Regions from separate parts of the Homo sapiens genome. Here all the other regions are linked to region 3. Evidence: fine-mapped expression QTL. A gene starts in region 3. Each other region holds a variant in brackets. All regions are shown on one strand. Distances are between the middles of the regions. Region 1 overlaps MLPH (melanophilin). Region 2 has its middle 21 kb from the start of COL6A3. Region 3 holds the start of COL6A3 (collagen type VI alpha 3 chain).

What was found. PIP is the estimated chance that this variant, and not a neighbour inherited with it, causes the effect.
Region 1: its variant is the best candidate, but not a certain one, in a credible set for the expression of COL6A3 in whole blood (INTERVAL, PIP 0.82).
Region 2: its variant is the best candidate, but not a certain one, in a credible set for the expression of COL6A3 in whole blood (INTERVAL, PIP 0.81).

Annotation. Positions count from the first base shown.
Region 1 is chr2:237,498,296-237,508,247 of GRCh38, forward strand. All of the region lies in intron 2 of MLPH (melanophilin), which reads left to right. Among named protein-coding and RNA genes, the nearest start is that of MIR6811, 7.7 kb to the right of the region's middle. The variant G/A (reference allele first, on the strand shown) is at 4,167.
Region 2 is chr2:237,430,668-237,440,619 of GRCh38, forward strand. No RefSeq gene overlaps it. Among named protein-coding and RNA genes, the nearest start is that of COL6A3, 21 kb to the left of the region's middle. RefSeq lists an enhancer at 2,242-2,748. The variant A/G (reference allele first, on the strand shown) is at 4,882.
Region 3 is chr2:237,409,905-237,419,856 of GRCh38, forward strand. It overlaps COL6A3 (collagen type VI alpha 3 chain), which reads right to left and starts at 4,260. Exons shown (of 44, transcript NM_004369.4): 1 at 4,049-4,260.

The DNA of each region.
Region 1 (9,952 bases), 88 kb after region 3:
CAGATGGATTCCTGCTCAGTATTTCTCTCCAGATGTGAGCATCAATCACGTTGAAGGACGCTGGGCAGGGTCTGGAGGTGACGCCTGCGCCTTTTCCCACAGCGTCAGAACAACACAACTTTGATTTCTCCTCTGTCAAAGCAGGGACAAACAAGCTGGTCCAGATCCCTGATATGCTGGAGGAAGGAGGGCATGTGACCCTGAGACCCCCATGAGCAGCATCCTGTCCCCAAGCCACGGAAGCTCCTGCTCCCTTGGCCAGGCCTGCCCCTCCCTCCAAGCTGTGCTGTGGACATTCGGTGACGCACACGCCTGACAAGGCTCTCCTTGCTGGCCCTTAGGAGGGATCGGTGAGAAGGAAGGGGAAGCCAGCACGTCTTGATCTAGCCCAGGCAGGCATAATCTCTCTCTCAAGTCATCTGTGCCACTAGGGATTTGGGAATGGGCTGTTTGCTATATAGAGTGGGAGGGCTGTTCCTGCCTCCCACGAGGACACAGTGCTGTGCACCATAGAATCGAAAACTTGAAGATGTACAAAATTAGGATGTTAGCACCACTGGCATCAGATAGGCATTTTAGGATAGATTTGACTTAACACCCATGTCCTATCCCAGGAGCTGCCCGATCAGCAGCCCCTTCTCAGCCTTTGTCCCTCCTGACCCTCTGCTTGTCCTGGGTGTAACTTTCCCCACACTCTCTTGACTTTACTCTGTGGTTAGTTTGAAGCCTCCTCTTTTTCCCGCTGGCCCATTATTGGAATAAATTGCCAATGACAGATCTTCCCGGAGGGTTTCGTCCATATGCTTTCATGGATGGATCTTTTAAATGGTCAAAGAACAGATAAATCCTGTGTGATTTAAACTGCTTCACGGCAGAGTGTTCACTAGCCTCGCCCTGACACCTCATATTGATGAAGATAAAGAAAAATATATACATAGCCCTGTTAAATCATCATATAAATAGACCTAAGGCTGCACTGTCCAGGACAGAAGTTACTAGCCACTAGTGGCTATTAAAATTAATTATAATTAAATAAAATAAAATTATAATTAAATAAAATTTAGCTCTTCAGTCTTATTAGTCACATTGCAGGTTTTTGATGGCCACATGTGGTTAGTGGCCACCATATCAGATCTTTGCAGAGGCCCATTTGGACTAAGGTAGCAAAAGTCTTAAAAGTATGCTCACCTGTTGAGCCAGCAGGTCCTCTGCTGGAAGTCATCATAAGGAGAGAATCAGACAAGGGTTACAGGAGAGAAGAACTAGAAAGACCCTAATGTCCAAATGTTCAGGCTTTGGTTAAATACCAAATTTAACAACGGATTTAACAATAGGTTGCTCAGCACCCAATGAAAATAATGATAGAAATAAATTGACATTAATAGTTCACAAGACATTGTCCAGTAGAAAAAGCAAGTTGTGAAAATGTAATTTTATCCCATTTTACTTTTTTTTTGTTTGTTTTGTGAGACAGGGTCTTGCTCTGTTACCCAGGCTGGAGTGCAGTGGCGTGATCATGGCTCACTGCAGCCTCGACCTCCCAGGCTCAAGTAACCCTCCCACCTCAGTCTCCTGAGAAGCTGAGACTACAGGCATGCATCACCACACCTAGCTAATTTTTTAAATTTTTTGTAGAGATGGGGTCTCTCTATGTTGTCCAGGCTTGTCTTGAACTCCTGGGCTCAAGTGATCTTCCCACTTCAACCTCTCAAAGTGCTGGGATTACAGATGTGAGCCACTACACTTAGCCAGATTTTACTTTTTTAAAAAAATACGTAGAAAAATCCAATAATGGTAGCAGAAGCTCAGCACTCATTGAGCCCTCTCTGGATGTGGCTCTACGTCGTGTGTTGGAGTCTAGTCCCTTCTCTGTCTCCTTTGCTGGAACTTCTTGGACTCTTTAAATATTCCCTTTCGCAGGGTCGAGGGCCCTGGCCTCAACTCTCTTCTCTGCTCTGTGTCACTCACTTCTCCAGTGACCTTGTCCAGCCCCAAGGTTTTAAATGAGTTCTAGACCAGCACTGCCTGATGGAACTTTCTACAGTGATGGAAATGTTCGTATCTGCATGACCCATGTGGCAGCCACTAGCCACCCAAGGCTATGGAGCACCAGAAGTGTGGCTAATGCAACTGGGGAAAAAAAGTTTTAATCGTATTCAATTTTAATTAATTTAAACGTAAATAGCTGCATGTGCCCTAGCAGCTAGGAGCTACTACAGCAGCTAGACAACACATCTAAACAATGAGTCCCAAGTTTACACCCACATCAGAGACACATCCTCTGAACTCTGACTTTTGTAGGCAAAGGCTTGCACGACACTGCGGCCAAAGTGTTCCACTGACATCTCTGTCCCAGCATGTCCAAAACAGAAGTTGTGATTTCTCCTCCACCTCCAAGCACCCCATCCCCATCTTGGATGCAGGCTGTTGCCAAAGTTAAGTTCCCAGGACTCATGGCTGTCTCTGCTCCTTCCCTCTCACCCCACACCCCACACTCAGCCAGTCCCGTGGCTCAACCAATACAGCCACTGCTCACCGCCCTCAATGCCAGCCTCAGGTCACGCCACACTGTCTTTCTTGTGGACACCACAGGAATCCACCCCACACACACACTTACTCTTCTCTCCCTCCACCCTCACCGTCTTGTTGTCCATTCTCCCCACATCCCCCAGACTCATGCCTTAAAAATGTGGATCAGGTCATCCCCCGGCTCATAACCCCCACAGAGCTTCCATCACATTTACGATGAAATTCGCCCTCCTCACCCCTGCTCACCGTGGGACCTCACTCCCTCCTCCATTTCCTCCTTAGCGCTTCTCCAATGCCCAGTGAGTCATTTCCTTGTTAGTGTCTTATCCCTGCCGGCATCTAAGCCCCATGAGGGTTCTGCTGCTTTGGCGCTGTGTCACCAGCCCCCAGCACAGTACTGACCATGGAACGACTCCACAGCTCTCTGGGCTCACATTGGATGATGACCTCTTTCAGCTTCATCTCTATTGTCTCCTTTAACCCTCAGACACCCCTGTGATGTGGTTACTTTTACTGGCCCCATGCACAAGTGAGAAACTGAGTCTGGGGCGGGTTACCCAGCTGTGATGAATATCTGGTAAATGTTTACTTTTAGCATTCGCGGGTCTATCTGCAGTGAGTGAGAGCTTGCTGTGTATTGGTGTATTGTCTCGTATTATTGTTCCTCTCATCTCCTATTTCCCCCATAAATATATATTACATCTAAAATAATTCACTCTAGGCCAGGTACAGTGGCTCACACCTGTAATCCCAGCACTTTGAGAGGCCGAAGAGGGTGGATCACCTGAGGTCAAGAGTTCGAGGCCAGCCTGGCTAACATAGTGAAACCACGTCTCTACTAAAAAAAAAAAAAAAAAAAAAAAAATACAAAAAAATTAGCCAGGCATGGTGGCAGGTGCCTGTAATCCCAGCTACTCAGGAGGCTGAGGCAAGAAAATTGCTTGAACCTGGGAGGCGGAGGTTGCATGAGCTGAGATCGCGCCACTGCACTCCTCAAAAAATAATAATAATAATAAATAAAATAATTAGATCTAATTCCTTAAATATCTAATGTGTGTTAAAACTTTTCCGCTCATCTCCAAATAATGTCCAGACCTTACACTTGCTTGCTGTATCTTTTAAGTCTCTTTGAATCTGTAAGATCTCTTTTCAGCTCTGTTTTTTTAATTTGAAGCTTATGTGTAGAAGAAAGCTAGCTGTTTACTTTTGTGGAATTTTTCACAGTCTGGAGTTAGCTGAGGATATCCTCGTGATGTTTGCACCAAAGTTCCATTGTCCCTGTTTTCCTGTAATCTGGTGGTGAGTTCCATAGAAGTGGTCCTCAGAGTGCTCTCATCTTGAGTGTTTTAGATTCATTCATATCACTTGGGTATTAAGAAGGTTTTAAGTACAGAAAAGATTATCACATGTTATTATTTTTTAATGTTCTACAAATACAAAGTAGGGCCAAAGTAAACCTTCTTGAAGGGAACATTGGTTAATAGTCACAGCTTTTAACTCCTTCTGTCCCCAGAAGAGCCCAGAACTTCTTAGGCACCCATCCCTGTCCTGGACCCAAGGGACCTGGGGCTGTGCACAAAAGGAGCAGGCCTCCTCCTGGGCACCCTGGAGCTTGCATTGGTGCTGATTTGTGTCTT[G/A]CTTTGTATCATGCTTGTGTCAAGTTCTCCCAGTAACTGCTTTCTGCATTTGTTAGGGTAGCCCCTCAGCTGTGGTTATGGTAGAAATTAATGGATATTCTCCAAACCCAGGAAGAACTAGGAGACCATGCATAGCCGGACTTGGGTGACTCATGCCCTGGGGGAAAGGCTGAAGCCCAAACGGAACACCCTGTTTTAAAGGACACAGCCTACAAATCAAATATTAGGACTGCCAACCTGCCCTGGAAAGGCAAATAGGTGGTGACGTGGATTTGTGATCTCTGCAAACAGAGGAGGTTCAGAGAGAATCTGTGAAGGGTCTCCTAGTATGAGACACGGGCAAACCGTGGCTTGCTTTAAAAAAAATTTTTTTTTGACCAGGCTCGGTGACTGATGCCTGTAACCCTAGCACTTTGGGAGGCCGAGGCAGGTGGTTCACCTGAGGTCAGGAGTTCGAGACCAGCCTGGTCAGCATGGCGAAACCCCATCTCTACTAAAAATACAAAAATTAGCCAGCCATGATGGCAGGCGCCTGTTGTCTCAGCTACTCAGGAGGCTGAGGCAGGAGAATCGCTTGAACCCGGGGGGCAAAGGTTGCAGTCAGCCAAGATCACACCACTTCAGTCCAGCCTGGGCAGCAGAGCGAAATTCCATCTCAAAAATAAATACATAAATAAATAATAAAAATCCATTTTTTTGATCATAAGGAATTTGAAATCACCCTTAGCCGGACTAGTTGGAATCACGGACACAGGCAACTCTAGAGATGAAAAAAATAGGGGCTAAAACAGGGACTCCGCTGCCAAGGCAGGGCCTGGAGGGGAACATTGGTCTGAGATGTTTTAGGAGATACTCTGAGGCTCCGTCTCTCAGCGCCTGCCGTTCTCACATCACCACTCACTTCCTCTTCATCTTTTTTATCGTCATCTTGGTCTTCCCCTTTAGAGGATCTCCAGGAACTTGAGTGAGTTTCCAGCTCCCTCGTGGTAATTCCCGACACGCGTTCCCAGGATGAGGAGCCTGGGTCCCCGGTGCTGCTCCTCAGCAATGCTGCCGTCTTTCCGTCCTCTGCCAGCCGTTAGCCCTGACGTGAGGTTTACTTTGGTTGCCACGCTTTCAGTCATTTGGCCCCTGGATCCTGTGACTCACTGGATCTTTTGTGCTCCAGTCCCCAACTCAGGGTCACCCTCAGGAATCATTTCTCCATTACCTGGGGTCTGTCCTCAGGCTGTTTTCTCAGGCATGGCATGGAGTGTGGATTTTGTCTTTGAGGATCTGTTCCACTTGCCTGGGAGTACAATCTGACCTCACACGCTTTCCCCTACAGGCTGTGGGGATGCTTACCGGTGGTAAGCAGAATAATCCCCCCCAAAAAGATGTCTACTTCCCAACCCCAAGAACCTCTGAATTCGTGAGGCTATACAGAAATGGGATTATGCATTTTAGGCTGCCCACCTGCTGGCCTGGACCTGGGAGATGATCCCGGGTTCCCTGGGCGGGCCTAATATCATCACAGGGGCCTTAGAAGCAGAAGGGATGGCTGGTTTTGAAGATGGAGAAAGGGGCCAGGAGCCCACATACCTGAAGCCCTCAAGAAGCTAAACTGCCAGAGAGCAGATTCCCCTCTGGGGGCTCCAGGAGGTGCCACAATCCTGCCGACACCTTGATGTTAGCTCAATGAATCCTGAGTCAAACTTCTGCCCTCCAGAGCTGTCAGGTAATGCATTTGCATTGTTTTTGTATTGTGTTTATTTTATTTTATTTTGTTTTTTGAGGTGGAGTTTTGCTCTTACTGCCCAGGCTGGAGTGCAGTGGCGCAATCTCAGCTCACTGCAACCTCCACCTCCTGGGTTTAAGCGATTCTCCTGTCTCAGCCTCCCAAGTAGCTGGGATTACAGGTGCCCACCACCACACGGGGCTGATTTTTTGTATTTTTAGTAGAGATGGGGATTCACCATGTTGGCCAGGCTGGTCTCGAACTCCTGACCTCAGGTGATCCACCCACCTTGGCCTCCCAAAGTGCTGGGATTACAGGTGTGAGCCACCGCAACTGACCAGCATTTGCATTGTTTTAAGCCATGGAGTTGGTGGAGCTCTGAAATGGCAGCAGTTGGACGGGAGCCACTGCCCCACGGCCAGCCCTCAGCCTTGCAGAAGGGCCCCCTGCATGACCTCCACTCTGTTGGAGGCCGCCGGTTCTGTCCACCATGCTGGTAGGGATTTTGCCCGCCCTATAACAGAGTGGTCTTGTCAGTCTGTGTAGGCATCTCCTACCATCCAGCGACCCCTCTAATCTGAAGACTCAGCTCTTTCTTTGTTTCTTCTCTCTGGTTAGGAGAGTTTTCCTGTGTTGTTAGGGTGACGGCTGCCTCAGTGGCATGGCAAAAACTCATGGTCGAAAACTTCACCCAACCAAGCCGTGCAAAGGAAATACAGGTCTTTTATTTCCCATCTGCTCCCCCTCGTGAGACCCCACCCCTTGAGCAGCAAGACAGTGCAAGCTTCAGGGCTTCAGATCTCCCAGACTCTGCTCACTTACCGGGTCTCTGTTCCTGGCTCAGCTTCTCTTCCAGAGCTCCCCACAACCCCACCTCTGCTCCCCAACCCATGCTTTTGGCCAGGCCAGCAGCTGGGCCTTGGGAGAAAGGCTCATGACCCTCCCGGTGGCCAGGTTGATGGGGTCTGGACTCCACACACTGTCCCCACCTCCTTGCTGGTCCTGATGCAGAGTGGAGGGCAGGTCAGCTTGCAGGATGGGGACCGCTGGCTGGTATGTGAAGGGTACTGGCCGGGCACTGAGATACGGATGGCACCCACCACTGAGACCCTGATCCCAGCCACATACCCACGTGCTGTGGCCTCTTCCACCAACCCCAAGCCTCTGCCAGTCCCCTGGCTGCTCCTCATCGCATGCAGTCCTGCTGGAGCATGGTTTAAGGATCACAGGGATGTGGATTCCCCACCACCCCAGCACCCAACGCAAGTGGAGGCCCACAGGACCCCTCATGCAGGCTCTTCCCCCGCCTGTGTGCTGGACCTTGGGGATGGCCACAGTGGGAGCTTCCCCCTGCTGTGCCTTCAGGGGTGGCCACCAGCCCCGCCATCCTGGGCTCTCCCCAGTATTCCTGCATGTTGCCACCACACCCCTGTCTAGATTTCACCCCAAGAGGGGCAGAGCAGGGCACAGGTCTGACCCCTTCACCCTGCGTGGCTCACCAATCCTGTCCAGACCCCATCATAGGAGCGGCCTTTCCTTCCTGTTCCCGTCCTAGAAGCGTTTTCCTTCCCTGGTATACGCCCTTTCTTCAGAGGCTGCCGGGCCTCCCTTGAGGACAGGAGTGCCCCCTTGGCTCTGTTCTGCCCCACCAGTCACAGCTCTGGCATGCGTGTCCCAGGGCCCTCTGGAGGTGGGACTGCAGAGGACAGTAATGTGGGTCCCCTGCCCCAAGGACAAGGACAGCACTTCCCTTCCACCCCCATGCATCCCCGTCTCCAGGGCTCTGTCTCCCCTGGGAGCTCACTTTCTCGGCCTTTGCCATCATCTCCCCACTGTCTCCCATCGCTTAGTCCCTTTTCTCCACATTCTGGGAGGGAGAGCAAACTTGACTTCGAAATCAGCAGTTCTCAAACCTTTGGGCCTCAGGACCCCTTCACATTTCCTAAATTACTGAGAACCCCAAAGAGTTTTATTCATATGGGTCATATCTATTAATATTTACCACATCAGAAATTAAAACTGGGAGTTAAAAATATTTATTTATTCACTCATTTAAAAATAACAGTAAACCCCCTACATGTTAATATAAATACAGTTTTTATAAAAAATGAGATTTTCCCAAAATCAGAGTGTGAGTAAGGTGAGTGGTGTTGTTCTGCTTTTGCAAATCTCTTTAATGTCTGTGTAGCAGGACAAGCCACAGACAAGAACTCCTCAGACACCGAATTGTAGAAGGAAAGGGCTTTATTCAGCTGGGAGCATCGGCAGACTCACGTCTCCAAAAACCAAGTTCCTCGAGTGAGCAATTCCTGTCCCTTTTAAGGGCTTACAACTCTAAGGGGGTTCATGTGAGAGGGTCATGATCGATTGAGCAAGCAGGGGGTACGTGACTGGGGGCTACATGCACCTGCACCAGTAATTAGAATGGAACAGAACAGGACAGGGATTTTCACAATGCTTTTCCGTGCAATGTCTGTAATCTATAGATAACATAACTGATTAGGTCAGGGGTCGATCTTTAACTACCAGGCCCAGGGTGTGGCGCTGGGCTGTCTGCCTGTGGATTTCATTTCTGCCTTTTAGTTTTTACTTCTTTTTTCTTTGGAGGCAGAAATTGGGCATAAGACAATATGAGGGGTGGTCTCCTCCCTTATCTGGAACAATAGAAGATGGGTGAATTCTCCACTTGCTTCTGCATTCAGTGGGTCGTAACATGTTTTCTAGGCTGTAGTATTTGAAGAAAATCTAGGCTCATACAGATACATAATTGAAAAAAGGAGTACTTGAATAGCCTTTGTAGACAATAATTAACATCATGTGTTGTTACAACATGAAAACCCGGCAGTTGGAGTTGGTAGTTTTTTTCCTTTTTCTTTTTTTTTTCTTTTTTTTTTTTTTTTTTTTTGAGACAAAGTCTCTCTCTGCCACCCTTGGATGGAGTGCAGTAGCGTAATCTCGGCTTACTGCAACCTCCACCTCCTAGGTTCAAGCGATTCCCCTGCCTCAGCCTCCTAAGTAGCTGTGACTACAGGTGCGTGCCACCATGTCTGGCTAATTTTTGCATTTTTAGTAGAGACAGGGTTTCACCACATTGGCCGAGCTAGTCTCAAACTCCTGACCTCAAGTGATCTGCCTGCCTCAGCCTCCCAAAGTGCTGGAATTACAGGCATGAGCCACTGCGCCCGGCCAGTTGGTAGTTTCTTAAAGGTTAGTTGTGATGTGGAATCTGAAACCATGTTAATGAACTTTTCCTTTTCTGTTTGTTCAAATCCATTGGTCTCTCTTGCACTTGAAGTGGATTTTCTACCCCTGTGTGATTTTTGTAACACCATGCATTAATCATTTGGAAGACACCGGCTCACTGAGTGATGCAGACTTCTCAAATGTTGACACATTTCATATGCACACCAAAAGAGAACCACTTCTGTTACTCTCACCAGCGATCTCATCAAAAGTCTCCCGGTGTTGGAAACCCTCATCAAAAGTCTCCCAGTGTTGCAAACTGTCAAGCTCACAGCAGGCGATATATGTTTTCCAGAATTCTACTTTGTGCTTGAAAGCTTCCGTTTTATTACTGGCAATAAATACTGTCACTTCTTTTCCTTGAAGTGAGAGTCGCACTTTGTTCATTTTTGAGAAAATATCTGCCAAGTACCCAAGTCGAAACAGTTCATCTCTCTGTTGTTCTCTCAAGTGAAAATGCTATTTCATAAGAAAAGTTTCTAGCTCAGGTGGCGATCGGAACAATTGCCCAATCCTTTTAATAGAAATATCTGTCACCTTCAACACGTGGCACAAGAGCTTCCTGTCCTCCTCCAAGCTCATCAGGCAGAATCCTCAAAAGACATGGACTGGGGGCCACGGTTCAAAAAGACTCATAACTTTTAGGGTTTCATCAAGGTGATTCTTTAATGAAACTGTTTTTTCTTCTCATTTCTTTTTCTTTTTTTTGAGACAGAATCTCACTCTGTCACCCACGCTGGAGTGCAGTGACACAATCTCGGCTCACTGCAACCTCTGCTTCCCTGGTTCAAGCGACTCTCCTGCCTCAGCCTCCTGAGTAGCAGGG
Region 2 (9,952 bases), 21 kb after region 3:
TTACATTTATGTTCAACAAGAGCACTAAAACAACTCCAAGGGAAACAGTTGTCTTTTCCATCATTCTTGGGAAAACAAGATATCCACATCCAAAAGAATGAACTTTGATCCCTACCTCACCTCATATACAAAAATTAACTCAAAATGAATCAAAGACCTAAATGTGGCTTGATGCAGTGACTCATTTCTACAATCCTAATGCTTTTGGAGGCCAAGGTGGGAGGATCACTTGAGCCCAAAAGTTTGAGACCAGCCTGGGCAACATAGTGAGACCACGTCTCTACAAAAGAGTTAAAAAATTAGCCATGCATGGTAGCACACAACTGTAGTTTCAGCTACTCAGGAGGCTGAGGTGGGAGGAGCTGGAGCCCAGGAGGTTGAAGCTGCACTGTGATCACACCACTGCACTCCAGCCTGGACCATGGAGCAAGATCCTGTCTCAAAAAAAAAAACAAAAAAACAACTAGCCATAAGAGCTAAAACTATAAAAACTCCTAGAAATAGATATAGGGGTATATCTTCACAACCTTAGATTAGCCAATGGTTTTTTTTTTAGATATGACACATAAAAAAAGCAACAAATAGAAAAATAGAAAAATTGGACTTCATCAAATTTTAAAACTATTGTGTTTCAAAAGACACTTTTAAGAAAGTGAAAAGACACCCCACAGAATGGGAAAAAATACTTGCAAATCACATATCTCATGAGAGATTTGTATCTAGAATAAATTATGAGTTCTCACAACTCAATAAAAGATAAAAAAAACCCAATCTGTAAAATGGGCAAAGCGCCTAAATAGACATTTCTCCAAAGGAGATGTACAAATGACCAATAAGTGTATGAAAAGATGCCCAATGTCACCAGTCATCAGAGAATGACAAATCAAAACCACAAAGAACTACCACTTCCAATTCACTAGGATGACTTAGATAACAAGTATTAATGAGAATACAGAGAAACTGGAACTCCCACACACTGCTGGTGGGAATGTAAAATGGTGCAGCCACCTCAAAAAAAAAAAACTTTCTGGCAGTTCCTCCAAAGGATCAACATAGAGTTATCCTATGACCCAGCAATTCCACCCCTAGCTATACACTCAAAAGGATTGAAAACAAATGTTCACACAAAAGCAAAACAAAAAAAATGTTTATTTTAGTAGCATTATTCCTAATAGGCAAAAAGTAGAAACAACCCAAATGTCCATCAAGTGATGAATGATCAAAATGTATTACATCCATGCAATGGAATATTAATCATCTATTAAAAAGAATGAAGTATTGATACACGCTACAACGTGGATGAACCTCAGAAACATTACGCCAAGTGAAAGAAGGCAGTCACAAAATATCATGTGTTCTATGATTCCATTCCTATGCAATGTTTGAATAACCAAACCTGTAAAGACAGAAAGGTCAGTAGTTGCCTAGAGCTGGGGAGCAGGAGGCAAGCGGAATACAGTGAGATGAGATGAAGTGAAATAGGATGAAATGAAATCATGCATCTTGTGCATTGACCCAGCAATGGAGAAGTGGGGGGCAGGCTGCAGGCTGGGGGCTGTCACTGGTCTGAAGGAGAGGATGTGGATTGTTGGCTACTCCATCTGACCTCCAATTTCTCTGTGGTGAAATGACAATAATGCCCTCATCTTTCCGGCCTCCCAGGGTTATCATGGAGATTGGTTGAGAGGAGTAAGTAGAAGAGATTAAAGGCCACAGAATGTTTTAGCACATGTAACAAATAAAGAGCCTTGGAACTTCACAGCCATTCATACTGTTCTCTTTGCCTGGAACATCCTCTCCCTCTTCTCCACCCAGACACTTAACAATCACTTCTGCTGTGCAGCCGTCCTTGGCAACCCAGACAGAGTGATGCCCTCCTGCAACAGGGCTGCCAGCAGGAGTGTACCCGACCTCCGTGTCATCACTTGTGCACACTGTGATAAGACCATGCACCTCTCGCAGACAGGACATGAGCTTTCACCTCTCTGTGTCCAGCCCACTGCTGACCACAGCACTGCAGGAGGATGAGCCCCTGCAGGAAGGAATGCTGGCTCTCTGGGGTAGATAAAGAAGGTTCTGGGGAAGGGAAGGGAGGAACAGGAACATGGGCTCCCTGCCAGGCTGTCCCAGGTCCGGGATGCCATCGGCAAGTGGGCGGGGACAGGCCTGGGTAGATGACATGGTAGTGAGTAAGTGGGGAGGCAGGCCAGCAGAGGAGCCAGGCTCACCTCCCGCCCGCCCACCTCGGCCACAGACCGGGAGGGGTCGGAGCACTGCGTTGGGGTTGATGAGCAGACGACTGCCAGGCAGCCATTCACAGGAAATGGCACAGACGCACATTGTTCCAGCTACCCCCCATCCTCCCTCAGGGGCAAAGTGAATGAGATACTCACCAAGGAAGCCGTTAGCAAAGGCGGACACTGATTCATGGTTTATAAGCAATGGTGAAGTCCTTTTTCCACTGGCTGCAGCCACGAATGGCCGAGAAGCTGTAAACAGTAACCGTAACCATGCATGAGCATCCCTACCTCGCTGTCTCCTCAACTCACCTCTCCAGCCCCGAGCGGGGTCACTGAGCATTGGAGAACTGCCCCGTAGCTTCTCACCTGCACGTTGGCAGTCTGCGTCCCCAGGAAACACACATGATCACTTTCTCAGACACCCAAGACCTGCATCAAATCTGCCAACTAAACTCTGGGAGGGGTGGCGAGTGGGCTGCAAGCCTGTTTCTTAGAAAGACAGTGAAGGAGAAGATAACAAGGCCTCAAGTTTGCCCAATAGGCTTTCTGGACAGCAGCATGGCCGGGAACTTGGTGGCAATAAGGTTGATGGCATCATTGCTTTACTCATTCATTCATGCCACTAAGCTGTCCCTGAGAGCTACCATGTGCCAGACTGTGCCATGGGCTAAAGGTACAGAAGGTACAGAACACAGATGGCTGCGTGTGACTCTTAGTGCAGGGGAAGGACTTTGCACTCTCAGGACATCCTCTGCACCCTTTTGCCACCTTCAGACTCCCAAGGAAGGAAGCCCATCCAGGTGCCGCCAGAGAGAGGTGCCTGGTAATCATGTCTATTGATGGCAACCACAGTGGAGATCCCGGAGCACAGGAGAAAAAAGCCCAGGAACCTTCCCTTTCCAGAATTGTCTGGGCCAGGCTGAGCTGCCCGGATGGCTTACAGCTCTGCACTCTGTATCATGGCTAAGGATGAGGGCTGTGATGGGTGATGGCCACATCATTGGCTACTCCCCCTCCAGCCCCTAGGATTCATTGTCCACGGGAGAGCCCATCTCCCAGCTGCTGCAGGTGCTGCTAAGCGCTCGCACAGGTAGCCTTCCCTGGAGAATCATCCCTAAGCAACAGCGGCCCCTCCCCAGAGGTCCCAAGAACTATGTCTCCCTCCAGAGAAGGCCCAAAGCCAAAGACTGGCAAAGGGAAGGCTGCCAAGCACTACAGGGCAAATCTAATGAATGCCCCTGAGCAACATGAGAGCCGGCTCGGCTGCACTTCCCCTGCACACCCCTTGCCCCACTTCCTCCCCGACCTCTCCCGCTCCCCTCCCTCCTGTGCTAGCTTCTCCCACAGCATCCATATCCCTTGATCAGTCACTTGCACTGAGAATTTGTCTCAGGCACTGTTTCCACGGAGCCAGACCTAAGACAGGTGTAAGCCAGAGGGTCTGGATCAAATCCCAGGTGTGATAAGTCACCGGGGGCCAAGTACTCAACCTCACCAGATCTCACTGTCTTTCTCTGTAAAATAAGGATAATAGTCACACTTGCACATAAGGGTGCAGTGCAGAGTGCATGCGTGCATAACACTTAAAGTAATTGGAACACACCTGGCCCATCAAAAGCACCTGGAGGAGACATCAGTTCTTACCACTGTAGCCAGAAGGTTGTCTCTCTGAGCTACAAATAAGACACTGGACACCCATTTAGTCAACCTTCTACAGACGATCACAGCCCAACCCAATCAAGCACCTACGTTTCACATTAGGCATGTCCATTTCAGGGTGTCTTATCCAGCGGCTGAGTTTGAAGGATCATTTTCAGGGTGAAAATTGGAAGAACTGATGAAGCTCACAAAAGCAAATAAATAAGCACGGCTTTTGCAGGATGCTTCCAGCAGAGCAGTGCTGGCAAGCCTGGCTGCCTGTCAGAGCCACTGGGGGGCTTATTAAAACTGCTAGCTCCCCTCCACCACCATCCCCCACCCCTTCCCTAGCTCCGCCCCTGAAGGTCTAATTCAGTCTAGTCAGCTGGAGTCATAAAAGCCTTCCTGGAGAAGAAGACACCTAATCTGGGTCTGGAAGGATGTGTGGGAGTTGTTCAAATGGAGCAGCCGTGCGGGGGCAGGACATCCCAGCACAGGGGACTGTGAGAGCCACGACGTGGGCCCTGGAACCCTGTGGTAGATGCAGAGAACCACAAACATTTCCGTACGGCTAGAAAGCGAGTGGGGGTGGCAGGAAGTGGTGGGAGGGGCTCACGATGCCAGTAATGACCATATTCAGGGGTGCTCCCGAGCCCTCCTTCCTTATGCCCCACGTGCTCCCACATCACCCCAGGAGATAATAAACGAAGGCGTGCACATGGGGGTCAGGCCCCTGGGAGTCAACAATGACTTCGGAGACCTCAGAGAGTCTGCAAGAAGCTTCCCTGGCTGCGTCCCTTGCCCCTTTAGGACCTGTAGGGGCCGTCTTTGCTGGGTGAGGTGCAGCTGAACTAAGGGTGAGCTGCTTTCCTCTGCCACCACAGGACTCAAATCCCATGGGGCCCCAGAGCAGGTGGACGGTGGTCCCCTGGCTTCTGCATGGCTGTGCCAGCCCACCCTTACAGGGACAGCATCACAGGCAGCAGAACTTCCAGCATTCTCA[A/G]AGGAGCTAGAAATTCCACCTTTTTTGTGAGATTTGAATTTTTACATGTTGGAGCAAATTTTTTCTCTGAAGCAAAACACATTTGCAGAGTCGTGACCTCTGCCAGGGAAGTGGGACAGAAGCTGGAGCCAGAAGACCTGAGGACAGGTCTCAATTCTGTCCCCTGGCTCACCAACAAGGGAGGGGTGGGCCACAGGGTCTTTCAGTGCCTTCCCAGCTGGACATTTCTGACCTCTCCTCTTCTCCTCTCCAAAATAAAAAAAAAAATCCTTAAATTTTCTAACCACCTCGGTGTAATTTTACTAGAGCATTAACTGAATTATAAATGTGTCTATTCAAACAAGGGCCTGGCCAGTGAAATTTTAACCAACTACCTGATTTCCAACTGTTTTCCATTGACCCATATATTAAAATAGTAGAAGGCCTTGGTCTCATGAGGCTTCTGGAGAAGCCTGCACGCAGCAGGAATGACACCCTGGTTGTGGAATTTCACTAGGCAACAGGCTCCAAACAGAAAATGTTAGCACTTTTGAGGACAAATAGTGTTTCTGGTACACTCTCTCCCCACCCCTTTCCTTTATCTAGTTTCTGCTCTTTCTTTGCTCTTTTATTTTTACTACTCCTTTTAAGAGTTCGTGTGTATTTTTACTAAACTTCAGTAGTACATATCCCCTCGCCAAAATGCTCCCTTCTCACTTTACACACTGCTGAAAATTATCATGCTGGCCCCTTCCTTGGAGTACAGTTCTGCCCTGTTGAAATGCTCACCCAGGAGGGGGCACCGAATTCCTGCTTTGTCACCAGGGACTGGGTGTTCAAAGAGTCGTTCATGGGGTGGGGCGTGTGGCCATGCCAGATAGCTGGTCAACCCCGGAGGAAGGCCAGCCCCAGGAGGGAGCAAGTGCAGTGTAGGGTCCAGCCAAGGGTTTATGAGCCTGAAGATTGGTTCAGGCAGCGGCGCCATCCTAAGGGAAAAACAGATACACCTCGAAGAGAAGCTGCTCCACCACTGCACCTGCTCTGTGCCACATGGAGGGTAAATGTCTGCTAAATGAACGCAAATGAAGAGGTCACCCCTTCATACTGTTGACTATCCCACCTGTGAGGGCCCAGGAGCAGAATGGTCACCTGGAGATCCAACAAGGTGGCTGTTTCCTTCATAGTCATCAGTAAGACTCTGCAGAAAACTCACTCCGCAGGGATTAGGCCAAAAAGAGGATGTGTCAGGAGTTTACAGGGTACCCTGGGTTGAATGGTGGCCCCAGAAAGGTATATCCATGTTCTAATCCCTAAACCTCAGAATATGGCCGTATTTGGAAAATGGGTCTTTCAGGTGTAATTAAGAATTTCGAGGCCAGGCGCGGTGGCTCATGCAGGTAATCCCAGCACTTTGGGAGGCTGAGGCGGGTGGATCGCCTGAGGTCAGGAATTTGAGACCAGCCAGGCCAACATGGTGAAACCCCGTCTCTACTAAAAACACAAATAATTAGCCAGGTGTGGTGGCACACGCCTGTAATCCCAGCTACTTGGGAGGCTGAGGCCAAGATTCACTTGAACCCAGGAGGAGGAGTTTGCGGTGAGCCAAGATCGTGCCACTGCACTCCAGCCTGGGTGACAAAGAGAGACTTTATCTCAAAAAAAAAAAAAATTTTTGAGATGAGATTATCCTGGACTGCCTAGGTGGGCCCTAAATCCACAAATAGTGTCCTTAGAGAGGGGGAAGAGAGAAGACTTGCAAGGGGAGCAGGAGGGGAAGGTCCTGTGAAAATGGAGAGATTGGGGCCGAGGAACACCAGAGCCACCAGAACCAGAAGAGGCAGGAAGAATTTTCCTCCAGAGCCTCTGGAAGGGAGCACAGCCCTGCCCACACCTGGATCTCAGACTTTTGGACTCTAAAACTGTGAGAAAATACATTTCTGTCATTCTAAGCCATCACGTTCATGGTGATTTGTTATGGCAGCCACAGGAAACAAAGAGAGGATGTCACCCTTAGAAGGGGTCCCATGGCACCTTGCCCAGTGAGGACAGGAGCTCAAATAGGACATGGGGAGGGTCAGAGAAGCAGCACTGGCTGGGGGTGATCTAAGCACCTGAGCCCATTTCTGTGGGCAGCCCCAGAATCAGCCATGGTCAGTGGACCAGAGAAAGGCCACTCCATGGAATAGCTTTTGGGGACCCAGGAGCCCGGTGGGTGCTGCACCTGTCCAGGACAGCTTGCTAAGGCATCAGTCATCACCAGAGTGACCCGCAGGCTGCCAGCTCCAGATGGTGTCTGCCAACCATCCATCCACAACGTGAGCCCATCAAGGCCCCCATCCACTCTGAGCCTCTCAGACCTAACTGTTCAGGCACCCCGGGGAGACAACCCCACAGCCCCGCAGGCCACTTTGTGCCTGGATTTGAGGAAGAAAGGAGCTGCTGTACTTAAACTCTGGGGCCAGGCTGCATGATAAACCCCTTCAAAGCAGGCATGAGTGCAGAGAATGCCCTGTTACATTTTATTTTTGAATTTCTAATTTAAAAAAATACACAGGGGAGTCCTAGTTTTAAGATACTGGAGTAGAAGCTTTTCCACTCCCAACTTTTCTCAAAAAGCACATTTTAGCAAGGAGAACAGGGAAATAGGGACACAAAAGATATTTATAACCCCAGTTCACAACGTGAAAGCAGGAAGCAGGCAGATGAATGGGAAACTTACAGCAGGGCCAGAGAGGGCGGGACTTAAGGCCGGTGGGAGAGAGAACAATGAGAAGCATATCCAGGAAGGCTTGGGAACTGCAGGTGACAGGTACCTGTGCAGGTAACTGCAGGTGACATAGCCTGTAGATCCTCCACCCAGGAGGCGAGGGCAGGGGTTGCTGGAAATAGCGCATGGTGTAAACATCTGTACAAGGAGCCCTCTGGCCTGGGTTCCACATCCAGGTGGCCCCAAGATGCTGAGACAGGAAGTTTATTCTCTGGGGAAAGTGAACCAAAGGAACCAAACCTGCAGGCACATTGGGAGAAAAGAGTGGCTGGACTGAAACCCAGCGGGCCAGGAAATTGTGCATGCCGAGCATGGAAATTCCCAGTCCTGCCGTCTCACCCAGATCACCAGTAGCCCTTGCCCCAACCCAGCTGGCAATCAGAGAGTCCTTTTCTACAGAAACCAAACTGCTCCAGAGAAAACAGCCACAGAGATTGACCACTGGGGGTTCCTAATGAACAAGCCAGTTGGCCTGCAGCTCACCCTGCAGTAAAGCCCAAGTTACTCATGTTTAGAAACCCTCCTACCATCATCCTGAGGCCCCAAATTTACATATGTGCCTGCCATAGAAGTCAAAGACCAAGGACAATCAACAAATGGGGAGGGGGAGGAGTTAAAGTAAGCAATAAAGAGAGCAGAATAAAACTTCAAAAAACACTATATTTTATAACCTCAAAGAAAGAAAAAATAATGCATTCTTAAAACAAGAGCAGGATGTTATTTTAAATTTTTTTAAAGGCAGAATATTTAACTGCCACTTTAGTTAAAAACACAAGGATCAAAAGCAAAAAAAATAGGCCGGGCACGGTGGCTCACACCTGTAACCCCAGCACTTTGGGAAGCCAAGGTGGGCAGATCACCTGAGGTCAGGAATTCAAGACCAGCCTGGCCAAAATGGTGAAACCCTGTCTCTACTAAAAAATACAAAAATTAGCCAGGCGTGGTGGTGGGAGCCTGTAATCCCAGCTACTTAGGAGGCTGAAGCAGGGAGAATTGCTTGAACCTGGGAGGCAGAGGTTGCAGTGAGCCCAGATCACTCCACTGCACTCTAGCATGGGCAACAGAGCAGGACTCCATACCAAAAAAAAAAAAAAAATAGCAAAAAGGATAGACAATAATGTTGAGAAAATCTCCAAGAAGGCTGAACAAAAATAAAAGGAATTTACAATGGAAGGGAAAAGATAAGACCATTAAAGGATCAATCTATTCCAGAAGCCTCAAAATGGAGAGAAGAAATTATTAAAGAAATAACACAAGAAAACTTCCCAGAATTGAACGACTTGCATTAATAGATTGAAAGGGTGGCCAGGCAAGGTGGCTCACACCTGTAATTCCAGAACTTTGGGAGGCCAAGGTTGGAGGATCTCTTGAGCCCAGGAGGTCGAGGCTGCAATAAGCCTTGATTGGACCACTGCACTCCAGCTTGGATGATAGAGCAAAAGCCTGTCTCAAACAAAAAAGAAAAAAGAAAAGAAAGAAAAAGAAAAGAAAATATAAGGAAAAAGAAAGGGCCTAAAACAACCAACCATTAACTCTTGCTATGCCTCTTGAATCCCATGTTATAATAGGACATGATGCCCTCATCTTCCCTCTGCCCCTCCTCAGCACCTTCCACCACCCCACTCTGTGGAATCATTGCTCTTATTTTATTATTTTTAAAAATTTGGGAATATTAACATTCAATGCTGTTTCCATATGGAGTAAATTATCCAAAAATTGAATCTGAAAGTTAAAAACCTATCACTGCTACACACAGATATCACACACACACAATGTAAATGTGTGTCACTGCACAGCTGAGTAGGGTGCTGGTGTTGCATTTCCTTCTCTGGAAGGCCAACAATGCAACTAAAAAGGAATTGTCTCTGGACATGAGTCCTTTTTGCACTCTGCTAATTGCCTTATATCTTTGCAAGACCCTCCAGGATCTCAATTGCTTTATCTCTTTTACTCTTTCCTCCTTTCCCAGAGACTTCCTCTCAGCCTTTCCCTCCAGCCTGTGCCCCACTGCCACCATCCTTGCAGAGAGTATGGTGCTCTTACAATCAAATGCACCAACTGCTAGAAGTCAGGTCTGGCTCTTTCTTGATTTAATTTCTTCTCTTTTGGGAGAATGTCCTCCATTCACCTCCCATGGAAAGATGCATGAGAGGTAAACTTGCTTAGTTAGTCCACGCGTGAAAAAATCTTTGTTATTCCCTCACACTTGAGCAATAGTTTAAGGATGTTGAATACTGAGTTTAAGGTGTCATAAACTAAAGTCCTTTTCCTTTAGAACTCGCTCCGTTGGCTTCTAGCATCCAGTGCTGCTGGTGAGGATTCTGA
Region 3 (9,952 bases):
ATGTCTTATTTGCTGAATACCCTTGTAATGCAATTGTTTGGGAACAAAGATGCCTCCTTTGATGGCACAATTTCATCTCAATACACTTACACCTGAGCAGAGAAGAAAAACAAAGCTCTAACGTATGTACACTTCCGTTATTATGAACAGCCACAATAAATATAATAATGACAATCATGTATTGAAATATCAGTCCTAAAACTGCCCGCAAGCTCTGCTGAGATGGTCATCACTGAGTTACTACAAACCCTGAAACTCCACCCTGGGAGACTCCAGGCACCACTTCAGAGATTTTTCTGAAGCTCGCAGAGATACACCTCCCTCTAGAGGAAAGAAAACCAAACTGCCTTTTCAAAAACAGACCAGGATGAACGTGCTAACTCAAAATTTCTTTTCTTTTTTTTTTTTTTTTTTTCTGAAACAGGGTCTGGTTCTGTCGCCCAGGCGCTGAAGTGCAGTGGCATAGTCACGGCTCACTGCAGCCTCAACCTCCCAGGCTCAAGTGATCCTCCCAACTCAGCCTCGTAGCTGAGATTACAGGCACATGCCACCATGCCTGGTTAATTTTTTAAAACGCTTTTGTAGAGACAAGGTCTCCCTATGTTGCCCAGGCTTGTCTCAAACTCCTGGGCTCAAGCGATCCGCCCACCTCAGCCTCCCAAAGTGCTGGGATTACAGAGATGAGCCACAGTGCCCAGCCCTCAAAATTTCATCTCTTTCCCAAAATGGACTATAAGACCAGAATGTATTAAAAATTATATTTTTCAAAATTAACAAAGTGAATTGTTGAAGGGAATATCTCTGCAAAATCAGGACCTGTGGAATACTCCCTGGAAATAAGACATTCATGACCACACATTAGAGGGGGCAAGCAACATGTTTTATTTAAAGAATAGGATTGTCCTTTCTTTGCACTGAATTTTTACACTGAATTCCACTGAAGTTTTACAGTGGAAACAGAGAAGCTGTATCTAGAAACGGGAGAATGAAGATAACCATTCTTGTCTAGTTCATGGCTGTCTGAATTAGTAGGAAACTTTAAAGCTCCCCCACTTTAAAATTTGGAGGGTTTGCGGCTTTCATTTTCTTAGCTAGAGCTAATAGGATTTTCTTTAAATGTCAGGTCCCTCCTCAAATCGTCAGCTATTTATGTAGCAGTGATGTGTTTTTTACTGCCTGCTTGCTGCAGCCAGGACACCATGAAAAGTTTGCTCCCGTAAGTCAGGGTGGAAAAGCTGCCTGGTACACAACATCCCTGTCAGATGGAAACCGCCTGCAATCCTTCCCCCAAGAGATAGCAGATTTTCAGCTTCTTCCAAAAAGAGCAGTGACAAAACTGAACTTTCAAATAAAAATTTTTGCTAAAGCTGTTACTGCGCCTGCAAGGAAGTGTCACGCAATAGTATTCACGACTTGCCGGTGAATTTTAAGTCCTAAACATGGAATTTCACATATAAGTGGGAGGTGATATCAACCGCTGGTGAAGACTACGCTTGATCCAGTTGTCTGAACACTCTGAGCAAGGAAACAAATGAAACCTCGCTGGCAAAAAGTCACTGCCAGCTTCCAAAGCTTCCAAAGAAGGCGGTCTTGTTTCAAGCTGGCTTTAGGCATCCAGGTCTATGGGTTCCGTTCCTGAAACTAAGGTCAGGATGAGCAGCCTCATTGGAACCATAAATCAACAATCGACTGAAGAGAGGAGCTTCTTCCTACTTTCTCATCGGGGACGTATTAAGTTCTAGGATAGGAAATCACAAAAGGCACTGATGATAAAGTCAGTGCAATTTGCTGAGTCCTGAATGCTTTAGAAATAAAATGAAGTGTGAAGTAAAGACAATTTTTCAGAAAGGTGCCTACCTCGTATCAAAAATATCATTCAGACCCCAGGTTTGGACATTTGCCACATGTCCCCTCACCTGTGGGCCACAACTATAGTGGGGTGGAACACGCTCCCTGCCAAGCAGGGAAAGAGCGGGGCCAAGGGCTAACATTCTAGAGGCTTCCCCAGCCACCTCCCAGAAAGGTGCTGTAGCCACACCCTCCAATGCCTGGATAGGAAAAGCCAGGACAGCCTCACTTCACCCCAACATGGAATTCCTTCCCAAGCCCTCTGCTCCACTCAGTGTCTGCTTCCTGGCTTCTCTCGACCATGAGTGAGGAAAGGAGAGAACTAAACCTCTGGGTAGCAAGAAACCCCCTAAACAAAGAAGTCCAGACAGGCAGCTGTTCCTACATCCTGATCTTTGTAAAAGCCACGCCTCCCCACCCAGGCTTTCATCCTCAGCTACAAGCCCACTTCAGAAAGAAGAGCATACAGGTCCCCTCCTTCAGCGCCCTCCACCCCCAGGAGGTGGCCTGAGCAGGGCGGCCAGCCCCGGTATTCCGGTCACGGAACCGATGCCCCCGCCCCACGGTCCACCTCCCTTCTTTCTCGGTTCATTGGTAGAGTCTTAGTGAGCCCAAAGCAGTTTTCCCAACGAGATGTGAGTTATTTGGGATCCTCCGTCACTGGCTTGTCTGCTCTCCTTCAATGGGGAAGGATTTCACTGCCATCTCAGGCACTCGCTCCCTGGCCTGGGCAAGGAATTCCGCATCTCAGAGCCCCTGGTTGCTCATTTTGAAAACCAGGAAACTACTGCATCAGTGGCTTCTGACCAAAAATCTCTTCCATTATCTTTAGCCCAACAAAAACCTCAGAAGTCCCAGTAATGTCATCAACGGCCACCCACTCAGTTTTCAATATAGTTTTGCTTAGGAGCAATGTAACTTTGATTTTAAAGCCATTTCGGTTGTTTTTTACAGCATTAAGAATGGGACCCTGGGGAGCTGGGGGATCCCAGGTTGAGCATCCACCATCCCCGTGAGCTCTGAGCACCCTGCAGCTCTAGCACCCTGTGGTCCTCGCCGGGGTGAGCTGTATGTGGGGAGAGAAGCCAGTCAGCCGGGGCCACAGCCCTGCCTCCCCATCCAGCACAGCAGACTCCCCTGTGCTCAGAGGGGTTTGCTCCTGGGGTCTGCACCGGCCTCGAAACTGGCTCCTGGGGCTTCCTGTGGAAGCAGATTTTTCTTTAACCACTCCCTAGTCCCTCCCAGTGACCCCACCCATACTTCAATACCCGTTCATTATCCAACATAGTAGGCCCCTTGAAACAGGTTCCCCAAACAGGCTGGCCACTGTCAGCGAACGTGTCCATCCTCAGCAAGAGAGGGCCCGAGCCCCACCCTGCATCCTCCGGGCCAGAGAACAGCCCTCGGGGCCTCCCAGCTCGGCACTGGCCTCACCTCTGTGCAGCATGGGCTGGCCCTGCAGCCCCAGGGGCCCTGCCTTAGACACTCAGCATGCTGCCCAAATGCCCAATTCCTTCTTCTCCTCTGACCCCTGCAACTCCTTTAAGCAACCCCAAGGGACAAAGTCTCCAATAGAGACTTCAGGTTCCTGGAAAGACGAAAGCTTGACGGCAATGACTGAGCGACCCTTTACTTGGCCCTGATCCTGAGCACCAGAGTTACTCCAATCTTGTGAAAGCAGCAAATGTGCTCCACCAGGACCTTCCCATGGGCGGCCCTGGGCAGAAAACCCATGCAGGTTGTTGCACCCTGACCTAGTGTCACCACCCAGAGAGCTCAGAGAACATCTCCCAGCGGAGCCGCCCGGCAGGGAGCTATGCTAGTCCTCAGCAAAGACGCTTCTGCAAACAAAGCGGATCCCGAATGGGTTTTAGAAGGCGGCAGTAACTTAAATAAATCATGGGCCGAAACACACTGCCGCCCGGAATGCACAGGGCGCGTGTAGCAGCCACAGACACGCGGTGGAAAAGTGCTCACACTCTTAGGCAATCATGACCTTAACCAATTTAAGGAAATCCCATTGCCATAAAGTGAGAAAGAAAAATCAGCGGAATCTTCCAGAGACCTAAAACATGTACAGAAAACTGGCGATCAGCATGAACGTAAGAGCCACTAACGCTACCTAGAAAGGATCACTTCAGGTTAAGAGCATTTCCTTCTAGCCCCAAACCTGGAAAAACAGAAGAGAAATCACACTTACCCCTGAGCAAACCTGAAGGCGTGTGTCCCTGGGCTCCTCGATTCAATTAGGTTTGAATAGGATGCATACTTTTCCCACTCACTGCGTCTCTTTTTCTTTTTGCAGCCTTTCTCCACCAAAAAAGTGGAGACTCAGAGCTGCGGAGGAAAACTCTTGCAGTCCTTGCAGGAGGCTGGAGCCCAGGAGAACTGAACGGCCTTTGGTGGAAGACTGAGCTCCAAACTGGACTGGGGCCAGGGATACCAGTCAGGGCTTCCTCCAGCTCCTCCTCCTCCTCCTCCTCCCTCCCGGACCCCTCCTCTCCCCCTCCTCACTGCAGAACTGACCCAAAACTGTAAATGAAACCAGACTCCTCCACTCTGTTTCTTCTGGCCCCCGCTCAGGCTGATGTCACCCTCTGAATTCTGTCTTCACCCTACAAGCGTTTAGCTGGACTCCTGCAAGCCCCAACTCTTAAAAAAAAAAATTGACCACTCCTACTCGTCACCTTTTGGGCTGGGCCCTTGGCGTCAAAAAGAATAAATTTTGGAATTTCTTCGTGGGTATCCATGGTTTTCCTGCAATGTTTTCCAACACCATCTGAAAGGAAAACAGGAAATGCAGTCCCCCGCTTACCCTCACCACACCCTCCCATTTCTTCTTGAAGTTTCTGAATTGAGACTTCTACTAATAACTTCCCCCTTCAAATAGAAAAACCAGCAATTAAAATCGCCTTGGTTTTCTGTTAACCAAAGCTCTGTTCACCGGCAAAAAAAAGGAGGCTACATTTCTCTTAATTTCTATATCTAATGATTCTGATTGTGGCGCTTATAGGCCCATTCTAGGCACAGACGGGGTAATAAAAATGGTTATCTTGCCAAAGCTTCGGGAAAATACTTGAGTAAGAACTTCTGTTTCTAGAAAGCTTTGCACATTTCAAAACACTTCAATATACATTCTCTCCTTTATCACAAACATCAACACCCTAAGCCCTTTTAAATAGAAAGATGTCTTCTTTTATTAGGTGAAATTGTGGTCCCATTTTACAGATGAAAGAAACAGGCTGGGCACGGTGGCTTATGCCTGTAATCTCAGCACTTCGGGAGGCTAAGGCAGGCAGATCACAAGGTCAGGAGTTGGAGACCAGCCTGGCCAACATGGTGAAACCCCTACTAAATCTCTACTAAAAATATAAAAATTAGCCAGGCATGGTGGCAGGCGCTTGTAGTCCCAGCTATTTGGGAGGCTGAGGCAGGACAATTGCTTGAACCCAGGAGGCAGAGGTTGCAGTGAGCCGAGATGGCGCCACTGCACTCTAGCCTGGGCAACAGAGTGAGACTCCAAAAAAGAGAAAAAGGAAAGAAAGAAAAGAAATGAAAAGAAAAGAAGAGAAGAGAAGAGAAGAGAAGAGAAGAGAAGAGAAAAAAGAAAAAAAGAAAAGAAAAGAAGAAAAGAAAAGAAGTTCCGAGAGAGTAAGTGACATCGTCATTGTCCAGTCTGGGTTAGTAACAGAGCTCAAATGACAACCCAGCTTTGGCCATCCCCAAACTTCTCACTGCTCTCCCATCATGTGGTCCTTATGAAAAGTCCATTAATGTGAAATATCAAGAGACATCCGAAAGGTTCTTTTTGACTGAGAGATCCTTCCAAACCAAGTTTGAAGAGCAAAGAAATCATTAACTCCTTTCCATGGATTATCTCCCTCCAATTTAGGGAAGAAAGGAGACAGCACCCCAGAGAGAATGCCTGCTCCCCTCTGCAGCTCCAGGGCTCCCTTCCTCTCCCATAAAGAAGCCCAACCCATCTCTAAACCAAAGGGCTCACTTGCAGAGCACTGGAGTAGGGAACAAGGATGGAACCTGAATTATGGGGTTCTTAGGTGAAGACACGCTGAGCAGAGGCTCCGAGTATAGAACCGCGCTGCCTGCATGACATGTAGAAGGACAACACGCCCCTCCAGCGGCATCCAATTCTCTGCCCTCATCCTCTCTGCACAGTGCAGGCGTTGACTCAAGCCCCTACAGAGACCGGGGATACTTGCTGCCACCCCCTTGGTTAGAGTCTGCAACTTCAGCACTAAGGAGGACTATTTCTCCCAGAACATTGTCTGCTGCGAAGAAGACAATCTTTGATTACAACCCCATGCTCCAAGCAGCTCAGCAAACTGAGGTTAACTGAACAAGCACGTTTTAGGTGTTTCCACTCCACGGTTTCTTTCAAATACAAATACACTCTTTTTCGCAAAATCGCTAGGCAGATGCATTCCTTGGTATTGAAAGTTTCTATTACAGTCGACCTCGTATCCATGGGTTCTGCATCCATGGATTTAACCAACTGTGGTTCAAAAATGCTTTTTAAAGTAGATGATTGCATATATACTGAACATGTACAGATGTTTTTCCTTGTCATCATTCTCTAAATGACACAGTATAACAACTGTTTACATGGCATTTACACTGTATTAGGTATTATAAGTAATCTAGAGATGGCTTGAAGTACACAGAAGGATGTGCATAGGTTATGTGCAAATACTACACCACCTTCCTTCAGGGATTGGGGCCTCTGTGGATTTGGGTATCCATGGAGGTTCCTGGAATCAGTCCCCCATGGATACCAATGGATGGCTATATTTAAACAGCAAGGGCAAGAAATCATTTAGAACATGATTTAAAGAAATAAAAGCTCCCATTCAGTAGGAAACCATAATCTTTAATATTTAGCTGCACCTACTCATTGATGATCCAGATCCTCTTCAGCACTGCCCATGGCTCTAGAAACTTCCAGAAACTCATGGTAAACCTCCCTTGTGCTAACAAGAGAGAATTTGGGTTCTATGGCAGCTTTCTTCCTTAATCACCACTATGTGGATTCCCACTTACATTTCCAGTTCCTCTCTGCTACCTGATCCCAGGAGGAAAACAACCTCAAAAGTTTGAGCTGCCCTAAACGTCCTGAGTCCTGGATCTAGGCCCGGCCATCGGTGGGACCTCATAAGTCACTGAATCTCTCAGTTCACCTCATAAGTCACGGAATATCTCAATTCTGTTTCCCCTTCACTGCAGGCTTGAACTGGCTCTTGGCACCTCTTCCCATTTTCTTCCCTTATCTTGTCCTTAACTACACAAGTTAGCAAGTTCAGAACTCCATTTTCCAAGCTCCCTTGTAGCTGTGGCCCTGATGGGGATGGGGCCTCCCCATCCAGATACACGGCTATGGGATTGGAAGGTGGCCTGAGGGATGGCGATTTTCTGAGACTTTGGCTGCCCTTTCTCCTGCGGGCAAGGACAGTGTGGAAGGTCCCATGGGTGCCTCTGCAAGACTCCCCTCAGATGAGAGTCAAATGTTAGTGGTTCACACCCACGCCCTTTCCTGGAGGACTGTTCGTGGATGCTGGGATCTGTCTCTTCTGGACACATTGGGGTGTGTGAGGTGGGTGGAATTCCAAGATGACCCCCAGGAGTCAAGCCCTTGCGTAATCCACCCCCCTTGCGTGCAAATGGAAGCTGAGCCCTGATTCCAGCCTTTGAACACGACAAAAATGAATGGTGTCCCTTCCTGGATTAGGTTACAGTTGGGTCGTGGGAAGTCACCCAGGGATCACAGAAGACTCTGTCTTAGGAAACGGCAGGGAGAGATTATCTTGCTGGCTGCTGGGGTCTGGATGTCATGTCCCCCAAAAATCCATATGTTGAAATTCTAACCCCCAAAGTGATGGTATTGGGAGATGGGGCCTTTGGGAGGTTATTGGGTCGTAGAGGAGAAGCCTTGATGAATGGGATCAGTGCCTTATAAAAGAGGATATGGAGAGACTGCTCCATCCTCCCACCATGTGAGGATACAGAGGGAAGGTGCAGTGCACGAGTTAGGAAGCAGGACCTCTCCAGACACCGAATCTGCGGGCACTTTGATCTTGGGCTTCTCAAACTCCCAAACATGAGAAATCAATTTTTGTTGTTTAAGCCACCAAGTTTAAGACATTTTGTTACAACCATCCAAATGGACTAAGACACTGGCCTTGACAAAGTGAGCCGCCATCCTGTGAGGGCCAATGGCAAGGAAATGTGGGGGCCTCTGGGAGCTGAGAGCAGCTCCTAACAAGCAAGGAAGCAGGAACCCCAACTCGACAACCACAAGGGCCTGACTTCTGCCAACATCTACGTGAGCTTTGAAAAGACTCCGTGTTTCAGAAAGAAATGTAGTCTCCCAAACGGAGGTTTCAGCCTCTGAGACCCCAGCAGAGGACCCAGTGAAGCCAAGCCTGAACTCCTGACCCAAGATACTAAATGCATGTTGTCGTAAATTGCTAGTTTTGTGACAATTTGTTACACAGCAGTTGATAACTAGTACAGGGTTATAGCCCATCTCCCTTGGGGTGGCCCACAGCCAGTGATGTCTGATGTGGGATGTGACACTCCAGTCCATTGCCTCTGGGCCAGAAAAACTTGGCAAGAGGATTCTCACTGCAGAACACCTGCCATGGGACCAGCCTGACTTCTCAGAACCCACTCCTTGCCTGGCTTCTTCTCCTGCCCTCATCCTTCTTCCTGCCTTCCTTCTAGGTTTCCCCTGGGAGCTCTCCCTCAGTAATCGCTTGCACAACACCCTGTCTCAGGCTCTGCTAGAAGGAACTTGAACATACACACAGTCATAGAGAAGCCAATATGAAGACTCCAGCTCCCTGAATGTTAAGAGGCAGTGGCAGACTGTGTAACAGACTAAGCATCCGAGTTCCATCACAGTCTCCAGGACTCAAAGGGAAGTCGCAGCCACAGCAGCAGCATCTGCCACACCCCGCATCCCAGCATCCAGACAGCTGCTGAAGGGTGCCTCGATCTTTGTCCTGTAAACCCTGGATTGCGGCTGTGCAGTGTGTTCCTAAGTTCAGTCTCTCCGGGGCAGGCTCCTGTTTCCCTGCCTCCCAGAATAGACCAGAGGGTTTATGCTGGGATATCCTGGGAGATATTCCTGGAGGGCCAGCTCAAGTCCACTCTTCTCACCCTCCCAACCAGCTCCCAGTGATGGATCTGCAATCATGTTAATAGATTTGCTTGTTGCAGTGAGGCTGGAGTTTCCTCTTATTGAAGAGGAGGTATGTGACATTCCAAAATCAGCTTAAAGTAAAATGCTCCACTGAGGCAACTAGGCCTGTTTCAAGACAAGAAGGATTAGAAGCCCAATCAAGGAAGAGGACTTGAGGCTTCCACTGACCCCACAGCCAGAGGGCAGCTGGGGTTTCTCATTCCATCCCTGTGCCTGTTTTAAGCCTCCTCGAGTGTCAGAGTGGAAAGTTGAGCGGATCTCTGGGAATGAGGCCCTAGTGCCTTCTTTGCTACTAACTCACCACAGGTTTTGGGCACGTCAACTAAGCTTCCTGCAACTCTGTTTTCTCTTCTGCAGAGTGAGTGGTAGCTGTGCTCAATAATGTCCAGAATCATCCAGCAATAACCCCTCAGGGATCTGGGCTGCATCAGCCATATTCGTCTCTGCCTCATTTCTAGCCTCAACTTCTATCCCTGCCCCAATTTGCACATTTCAAAGCTCCCACCTCTAGATTCAGTCCCACTGAGACCCGGGCTCAGGAACAAAGATGGACCAGCTGCCCCTCCCCATTCCCTAAACACTTCATATGGACATGTTGGTGTGAATTTTTCCTACTCTATTCTACTGCACAAATGATGCTGTTTCTGCGATTTTCGAGAGTCTAAAACCAAATAGCACTTCACTTTATGCTACTAAAACACACCAGGCTATGAAGGAAAACGTAGTGCCAGCCATGCACAGAAAGCTGTTGGGTCATGTGTCTAGACCAACACTTCTCTTATTTCAGGAATGCCCATCCTCTACTTTGACCAGGGGTTCAAATGAGAGCTGCCATCTTCCAGAAGAACCTTCTAGCATCTCCTCTACCAGGTGATCCAGAGTTGG